2 linked regions of the Homo sapiens genome follow. The protein of the gene in region 1 interacts with the protein of each later gene in a pairwise test. Each region holds a gene or a part of one and is shown on either strand. Other genes may lie near its edges.

Region 1 (5,468 bases):
TTATTCTTTCTTTTCCTTCTGCCTTTTTTTACTTCTATCCCTTTTTCTCTTTTTCCCATTTCCCATCTTTTACTCCCATCCTCAGTCTGTCAGTGATAACAACAGAGATAAAGCATCAACACTTACTTCTTTGAAAATTGGTACCCTTGGTGAAGAAACCTAATTTCTTTTAAATGGAACGTGTGTTATCTTTGCCTTTGTATGAGTTTGTTGTTAATAGATCAATAGTATTTTGTTACCTAGATAATGGAAATAGAAGAGCAGAAGCAAAAGCAATTGGAATTACTTGAACAAATTGAACAGCAGAAATTAAGATTAGAAACTGACTGCTTCAGGGCTCAGCTGGAAGAAGAAAAAAGAAAAAAAACTCAACCGACTGGGGTAGGATGCAGAAAATCTCATCACTACATAAATCATTTGGTAAGGGGGGCAAGAAAATATGAGCACTTGTAGCGTTTAGAAAAGTAAAATGGATGGCTGGGCGCGGTGGCTCATGCCTGTAATCTCAGCACTTTGGGTGGCCGAGACAGGCAGATCACTTCAGGTCAGGAGTTCGAGACCAGCCTGGCCAATGTGGTGAAACCCCATCTCTACTAAAAATACAAAAATTAGCTGGGCATGGTGGCACGTGCCTGTAATCCCAGCTACTCCAGAGGTTGAGGCAGGAGAATCGCTTGAACCTGGGAGGTGGAGGTTGCAGAGTGAGATTCCATCTCAAAAAAATAATAATAATAAAAGTAAAATGCCTTTGTAATTCTTATTTGGTCTTTTTTTGATATAATGTATGTATATATGAATAAATTTGCATCAGTTACGGCTTTCATCTTTCAGTTTCTATAGGATACTAATAGATACGACCATGGTTTGTAGGTAATGCGTATGTTGAGCTTTTGGACCTGCACTGAAGGAGAATGACAGATTAGTTCATTTCTTACTAATGGAAATGCCAGTCATTTTATAAAAAATAAAGCTGTATGGAAGTTTACAATTATAGAACTGTATGTAAAAATACTTCAATACTTACTTCTAAATTTGCTTTTTAATTAGTAACTTTGTCTTTTATTAGGTTGGCATTGCTCCAGCATCATGCCCTGTAATTTCTGATGAAGATAGTCATAGGCAGATGATTCGTAACTATCAACATCAGCTTTTACAACAAAACAGGTATTAGCTAGGGTATAATTTATATGTGATCGTATGTGGCTACATTTTTAGGATTTATTGTTTCATTTATATGAGGATCTAATTTGGATTTCCTTAGAATTATGGCATTTAGAACTGCCATTCTTAAAGGACAATGTGAGTGTAATTTCTTTTCACCATGAGTATTGCCAACCCTAGATTGCTGTTTGTTAAATTTAATGTATAGACATGGGGCTTTTTATTTTTCATTAAAAAACAATAATTGTTTGCTTTTGTTTTTGGTAGGTTACACAGGCAGTCTGTTGAAACAGCCAGGAAACAATTACTTGAATATCAAACTATGTTAAAAGGAAGGTGCCCATCGGTGTCAGCTCCATCATTGATAACTGATTCTGTTATATCAGTGCCATCATGGAAATCTGAGAGACCGACTGCTATATCAGAGCATTGGGATCAAGGTCAGAGACTCAAGTTGAGTCCTAACAAATACCAACCCATACAACCTATACAGACCTCCAAATTAGAACAAGATCATTTTCAGGTAGCGAGACAAAATCACTTTCCACAAAGACAGGTGGAAACAACAGAAACATTACGCGCTTCAGATATTTTAACCAATCAAGCTTTAGAATCACAAGAACATCTAAGGCAATTCTCTCAGACTGAAACACAACAGAGAGACTATAAATTGGTCCCCAAAGATTCTGAGACACTTTCAAGGGCTTTGTCACATGACAGGCAGCTAATATCACAGGATGCTAGAAAAATATCTGAAACATTTGGGGCAACAACTTTTCAAAGTTTAGAATCCCAACAATTGTTCTCAGAGAATAGTGAAAATATATCTTACCATTTAACTGAACCTTCTTCATTTGTACCACTGGTACCTCAGCATTCTTTTAGTTCTCTGCCTGTTAAAGTTGAGTCAGGAAAAATTCAAGAACCCTTTTCAGCCATGAGCAAAAGTACAGTTTCCACAAGCCATTCTATAATCAGCCAAATGCATGATAGGCCTTTGCTGCCGTCAGAGAATATCACAGCCCAGCAAGGTAATATGAAGGCCCTCCAAGAACAGTTAGACCTACAGAAGAAAGTTCTTCAGGCAACTCAGGAAGCTCAGGAACAGTTGCTTTTGTGCAAACAGAAAGAAGTGGAACAGCAAACGGGCCTCTCGGTATTCCTTCCCTTGGTAACTCCAGATTCATCTGCTTTATTGCCTTCTGCCAAAGCAGATTTGGGGAGAATCCAGGAATCTTCACCAACCAAGAATAATATTGCAGTTTCCTCAGACCATCATGTGATCTCACAACTTCAGGATAAGCGTTTGAGTCTTTCACAGCCTATCCTATCACAGCAAAATAATTTTAAATTTCTCCAAGAGCAGTTGAATATTCAGAAGGATAGCCTTCAGGCTAGGCGAGAAGCCCAGGAAGTATTGTATGTACATAAACAGAGTGAATTGGATAGAAGAGTATGTTCCGAACAGGCTGAGCCCTCTTTCCCATTTCAGGTAGCTCAGCATACATTTACTTCACTACCATCTGCTGATACAAAATCTGGAAAAATACAGGAGCAACATTCATCTAAGAGCGAGAAAGGACTTGTTTCATGCCAATCTGACATCCCCATATCTCAGGATGGGTCTTTGAGTTTCCTACAGCAGTTCCTACCTCTACATGATAGTTTGAAGTTGCTCCAAGAACAGTTGACTAAACAGAGGGATACTCTTCAGGCTAGGCATGAAGCTCAGGTGGAATTACTTTTACATAGACAAAGAGATTTGGGGGACAGTAAGTCTGGGCTGGTGAGCTCTTCATCCTCACCAGTGGTTGTTCAGCATTCAGTTGCTTCACAAGCTTCTGCTAAAGCTGAGCCTAGGAGAATTCAGGAGCTTTATTTATCTGAGAAGGAGAATGTAGGTCCCTCCTGTCATTTGATAATCCCAACATTTCAGGATAAGTCTCTTAGTTTTCCACAGCATAGCCTGGCACAGCAAGAAAATTTGACAATACTCCAAGAACAGTCACAAATACAAAGGGTAATACTTGGTGCTAAAGAAGGAACTCAGGAATTTGTACACACAGAAAGTGAATTGGAGAAAAGAATTTCTTCTGAACAGACTGGCACCTCCTCATCCCTTTCCCAGGTGGATGAATCTGAGAGATTCCAGGAATGTATATCAATCAAGAGTGACAGTACCATTCCCTTAAGCCATCCTAAGATCCCAAGATGTCAGGAAAGACTTTTGAGAGTTTCACAACATATGCTACCTCTACAAGATAATTTGGAGGAACACCAAGCATGGCTAGACACTGAGAAAGAAGCCTTTCATTTCAGCCAGAAAACCCAAGAAAATACATCTTCTGAACAAACTGGTTCATCTTCATTCATACCCCAGTTGGTACAGCTTTCATTTACTTCGTTAGCTTCAGCTGAGTCTGGCACAATCCTGGAACCTCTTTTTACAGAGAGTGAAAGTAAAATTTTTTCAAGCCACCTTCAGATCCCACAATTGCAGGATAGGCTTTTGAGGATATCGCAACTTATCCAGCCTCAACAAGATAATTTGAAGGCACTTCAAGAACAGTTAGCTACACAGAGAGAAGCCATCATTCTAGCTAGACAAGAAGCTCGGGAAGAATTACTTTTACATCAGAGTGAATGGGAGGGAAGAATATCTCCCGAGCAGGTTGACACCTCTTCCTTACCCCTAGTACCACAGCATTCATTCGCCTCATTACCTCTTAATGAATCTGAAAGAAACCAAGAACCATGTTCAATTAACAGTGATAATATAGTATCCTCAGGTCACTCAGAGATACCAACATTGCCTGATGGGCTGTTGGGTTTATCACATCTTGTTTTACCTCAACAAGATAATTTGATTGCACTTGAAGAACACTTGCATGCACAGACAGATTTCCTTCCTTCTATTGAGAAAACCCAGAAAGAATTGGTTTTGTCAAAACCATGTAAATTTGAGGAAAAGGTATCTTCTGAGCATTTTATCCAGTCTCACCATGGTGATTTGCAGGCACTTCAACAGCAGTTAGATACACAGAAGAAAGCCATTCGATCTATACAGGAAGTCCAAGAAGAATTGCTTTTGCAAAGATTAAGTGAATTGGAGAAAAGGGTATCATCTGAACAAGTTTGCTCCTCTTCATTTGTATCCCAGGTGCCTGTTGCTGACTCTGAAAGAACCCAGAAGTCTTTCCCAACCAAAAGTAATGATACTCTTCCCTCAAGTCATCGTGAGATTCCAAGATTACAGGATAGACTTTTGAGTTTATCAAAGCCTATTCTGCCTCAGCAAGATAATATGACAGCACAATTGGATGCACAAAGGGAAGTGATGTATTCTTATGAGAAACCCCAGGAAGAACTGTCTTTAAACAAACAAAGAAAGTTGAACAAAAGTGAATCTGCTGAGCATACTATCCCCTCTTTGTTTCTACCCAAGGAAACAGAGCATTCGTTTATTCCACTACCTTTTGCAGAAGCTAAACCTAAAAGCACTTGTGAATTGTATTCATCCCAGAATGAACATGCAGCCCCCCCAAGTAATCCTGTGATCCCAGGGTTTCAAGATAGACTTTTGAGTTTTTCACAGTCTGTCTTAACTCAGCAAGATAACTTGGGACTTCAGAAACAGTTGGATCTACAAAGAGAAGTTCTGCATTATAGCCAGAAAGCCCAGGAAAAATTGCTTGTACAGAGACAAACAGCATTGCAGCAGCAGATACAGAAACATGAAGAGACTTTGAAGGATTTCTTTAAAGACAGTCAGGTATGTTTTAAACCTGAATAATAATGAAACACTAGAAGTTTAAACCCAAATCAGTTTTTAATACTAGGATTACAAGTTTTCAGTTATTGAGAAAAAGTAGTTTGACCTTAACTGTGCTTTGATTTTTCACCCTAAATGATGTGGAAGTTAAAACAAAAATCGATCCACCCACATGGTGTTTATGAGGTTAATAGTTACGTGAAGTCCAATTAATTTTTTTAAATTTTCTTTTGTTTTTGCTTTTTTTTTTTTTTTTTGAGACAAGGTCTCGCTCTGTTGTCCAGGCTGGAGTAGAGTGGCACCATGTCGGCTCACTGCAACCCCTACCTCCTGGGTTTAAGTGGTTCTTGTGCCTCAGTCTCCCAAGTAGCTGGGATTACAGACATGTACCACCATGCCTGGCTAAATTTTGTATTTTTTTTTTTTTAATAGAGACAGGGTTTCCCCATGTTGCTGGGATTACAAAGTGCGGGGATTACAGGTGTGAGCCACCACACCTGACCCAAAGCTCAATTAATTTCACCTGCAAACACAC
Region 2 (3,500 bases), on another chromosome or scaffold:
CATACTTTTCTTTAAAACTGGTCTGAATTTATTATTAATATATCATTCCTTTATTTTTCAAGGAATCTCCTCTGATCTTCTAGTCTGACTTAGATGCTTCTATTAGGATTCTGTGCTTTCCTCGGTCATAGCACTTGTTGCAAAGTATTACACCTCTTTTAGTATCAGCTACTAGGCACCTGAAAGCTATACTTGCAATGAGTGAATGAAGAATGAGTGAAAGGGGTAATATTTCTAATAAAAGTGTGCGTTTTACTCAACAGTGACAACTGAACGCCCTGTGCAGGTTAAGGTGGTCAAAGTCAAGAAATCCGATAAGGGAGATTTCTACAAAAGGCAGATTGCATGGGCCCTTCGAGATCTTGCTGTGGTAGATGCCAAAGATGCTATCAAAGTAGGTTTTTCTCAGTTCTTTGACCTGTGTTCAGAAAGCATCTTTCATTTTATAACATGGTATTACATATTCTAAAATGATCTAAAAACAAATTAATATATATGTTTGTTTTCTTATTTTTTTGCTTTTTTTAAGCTATAATTATGTTTGTGCACAAGCTACATAAACTAGAGAAAAATTACTTTGACTGTATACATTTCTGTGTTTAGATTAAGTATAATTTGTATAAAATCTATACATAGTATGGATTTTAAAGTGGTGTGTCATGAGTTTTTTTTGCTTGTTTGTTTGTTTGTTTAATCAAAATCATATAACCAAAGTGATCCTTCCTTAGTCTTCATGAGTAAACATAGAATCACCAGCTGGGGCAGCCAGACTGGCCTTTTGAGGCCACCATGGCTTTGATGTTTGTGGATCAAAAAAAAAAAAAAAGAAATGATAGTGGGTTACATACCTTATTTTAAGGAATGTAGATAATAAGATCTATGAAGATATAAACTTACACGTTATAGATAAACCACACTCAAACTCCAAGAAAGGTGATTAATGTGATAATCACATTAAAGGACCACCTATGTTCCTGACAGTTCAAAGCTTTCACAGCAATACCCTTTTTTCAAAGCAATCAAGTTGGCCTCCTTTGATTAAATTAGGTGCTTCCTCCCCCTGGCCCTCTCTCACTCTGCCCTTCATCTTTCTCTGCAGCCCTAACACACCTCCATAGCACAAGAGAATACTTTGTACCACAACTACTTGTATGTCGATGGGATGAACATAATAGCAAGGCTTATACTAGTGAAACTACAGGTGCTCTTTGACTCTACAAATCTCATACATTTACTAAAAAGGCACAAAGTAAAAACAACAAAAAACAAAAAAACTGCCTGTGTAAAGCAATCTGTTAAAATAAAATTCTGATTTTACCCTTACTTTGGTACAAACCTCCAAGGATCAAAAATCTGGACAAAATGACAGGTAGTTGAGTTGGGTGCAAAAAAAATGAAGTAAGAACAATTTGAGGAGAGCCCTCTATATCTGTATAATTCAGATTTCTTCCAAATGTAAATCATGCCTTTTCTTTAAGTATTCTAGGCTTACTGGCCCTTTGTTTTATCCCTAAGGAGCACCCAATGCTTAGAAAAATGTGAAATGTAGAAACAGGATTTGACAGAAATTTAGAAAGCTAGAGATTGGAAAGAAAATTATAATGGGATGTTTAAAAATAATTTAGGCCAGGCGTGGTGGCTCACGCCTGTAATCCTAACACTTTGGGAGGCCGAGGCTGGTGGATTGCCTGAGCTCAGGAGTTCAAGACCAGCCTGGGTAACACAGTGAAACCCTGTCTCTACTAAAATACAAAAAATTAGCTGGGCGTGGCGGCACACGCCTGTAGTCCCAGCTTCTTGGGAGGCTGAGGCAAGAGAATTGCTTGAACCTGAGAGGCAGAGGTTGCAGTGAGCCGAGATTGCGCCACTGCACTCCAGCCTGGGCAACAGAGTGAGACTCTGTCTCCACAAAAAAAAACAAAAAAAAACTTCTGTAAGTAATTTTTATTACCATGGGGAGGGATCAAGAGTGGAAACTTTTCTGGTTGTTTTCTGTTAAGACAAAACACTTTAAGGGTTTTTAAAACTGCACCTTTATTAAAAAACATTTTTCCCTTCAGTAGTTTTGCACTTCGTAACCCTGTTGACTTGCATAATTCAGTAACATTGCTGAATGCTTATTTGAATGCATTCTCACAGCTGATGCCTCTTGCAGACTTGCTTAATGGATTTTTTTTTTTTGCATTTTATGTAGGCACCTTGGTGTGTGTATGCTATATATGGATATAAAACATAAAATTTTTATACATAACTTAACATTAGCCATTTAGTATCACACATTGATTTGTGAGTGTTGCCACTGGAGCACTCAGCTTCTTTTATGGTATTATGGGAAATATTCCCAGGGAAGAGATTATTTCCCATCAAGTTTCATATTGGTTGCCAATACTCTTGTTGTGTTTTTTTGTAAGTAATAATGCAATTACCTTTTCATTGTATATGCAGGTTTTAAATTTTTGACGCTTCAATTCTGTTTATTAAGCTATAAATTGAACTAATTAGTAGTTCCATGCTGCTGTAATATGATTGTTGTACCAAAGGTCAAGTCCTGATTCCTGAGATACTCCAGTTCTTCACAGTGAAAGTCTGATATAACTTCCCTTACTTTAATGTATTTACATTTCCCCCAAATAACACTTTAAATGAATCAAATATATTATTATTCTTTTACCCTGTAGAACATTAAGAATATTTGAGCCTATTTTTTAATTCCTTGGATGTGAAGTATACATCCATAAGTTTGTTTGTTTGTTTGTCTGCTTGTTTGTTTTGAGACAGGGTCTCACTCTGTCACCCAGGCTGGAGTGCGGTGGCACAATCTTGGCTCACTGCAGCCTCCACCTTCCGGGCTCAAGCCATCCTCCCACCTTAGCCTCCCGAGTAGCTGGGACTACACGTACATGCCACTACACCCGGCTAATTTTTGTGTTTTTTGTAGAGAAGTGTTTTGCCATGTTGCCCAGGCCAGTCTCAAATTCCTGGGTTCAAGCAATCTACCCACCTCGGCCTCCCAAAGTGCTAGGATTACAGGCGTGAGCTACCAAGCCCAGCCTGTTTTTTTATATAATAGTCAAGTAGTTCTATTCATTCAAGGGAGAAATATTAGCCTGATGTGGATTATTGCTATAATGTGGCTTAAGAGACTTGAAGAAACTATAGTGTAATTCTCTCAGATTGGTTGAGCTTCTTTATCACATGAAAGAACGTTAGGCCAGGAACAGGGCTCATGCCTGTAATTCCAGCACTTTGGGAGGCCGAAGCAGGAGGATCAACTGGATAACATGGGGAGATCTTGTCTCTACAAGAACATTTTAAAAATTAGGCATGCTGGTATGTGTCCGTGTCCCCAGCTACTCAGGAGGCTGAGGTTGGGAGGATTGCCTGAGCCCAGGAGGTGGAGGCTGCAGTGAACCATGATTGCACCACTGCATTGTAGCCTTGGCAACAAAGTGAGACCCTGTCTCAAAAAAATAAAGAACTTTGAGACCTAGCAGCACTTT

The links.
Region 2: the proteins of CEP295 (region 1) and EXOC1 interact in a two-hybrid assay, tested with the Homo sapiens proteins (2 studies listed by BioGRID and IntAct).

Annotation. Positions count from the first base shown.
Region 1 is NC_000011.10:93,695,254-93,700,721, forward strand, and holds part of CEP295 (centrosomal protein of 295 kDa), read left to right. Parts: intron 1-228; exon of another isoform or gene 229-243; coding exon 244-381; coding exon of another isoform or gene 382-420; intron 421-1,066; coding exon 1,067-1,164; intron 1,165-1,428; coding exon 1,429-4,933; intron 4,934-5,468. UniProt on the Homo sapiens protein: Centriole-enriched microtubule-binding protein involved in centriole biogenesis.
Region 2 is NC_000004.12:55,860,148-55,863,647, forward strand, and holds part of EXOC1 (exocyst complex component 1), read left to right. Parts: intron 1-263; coding exon 264-394; intron 395-3,500.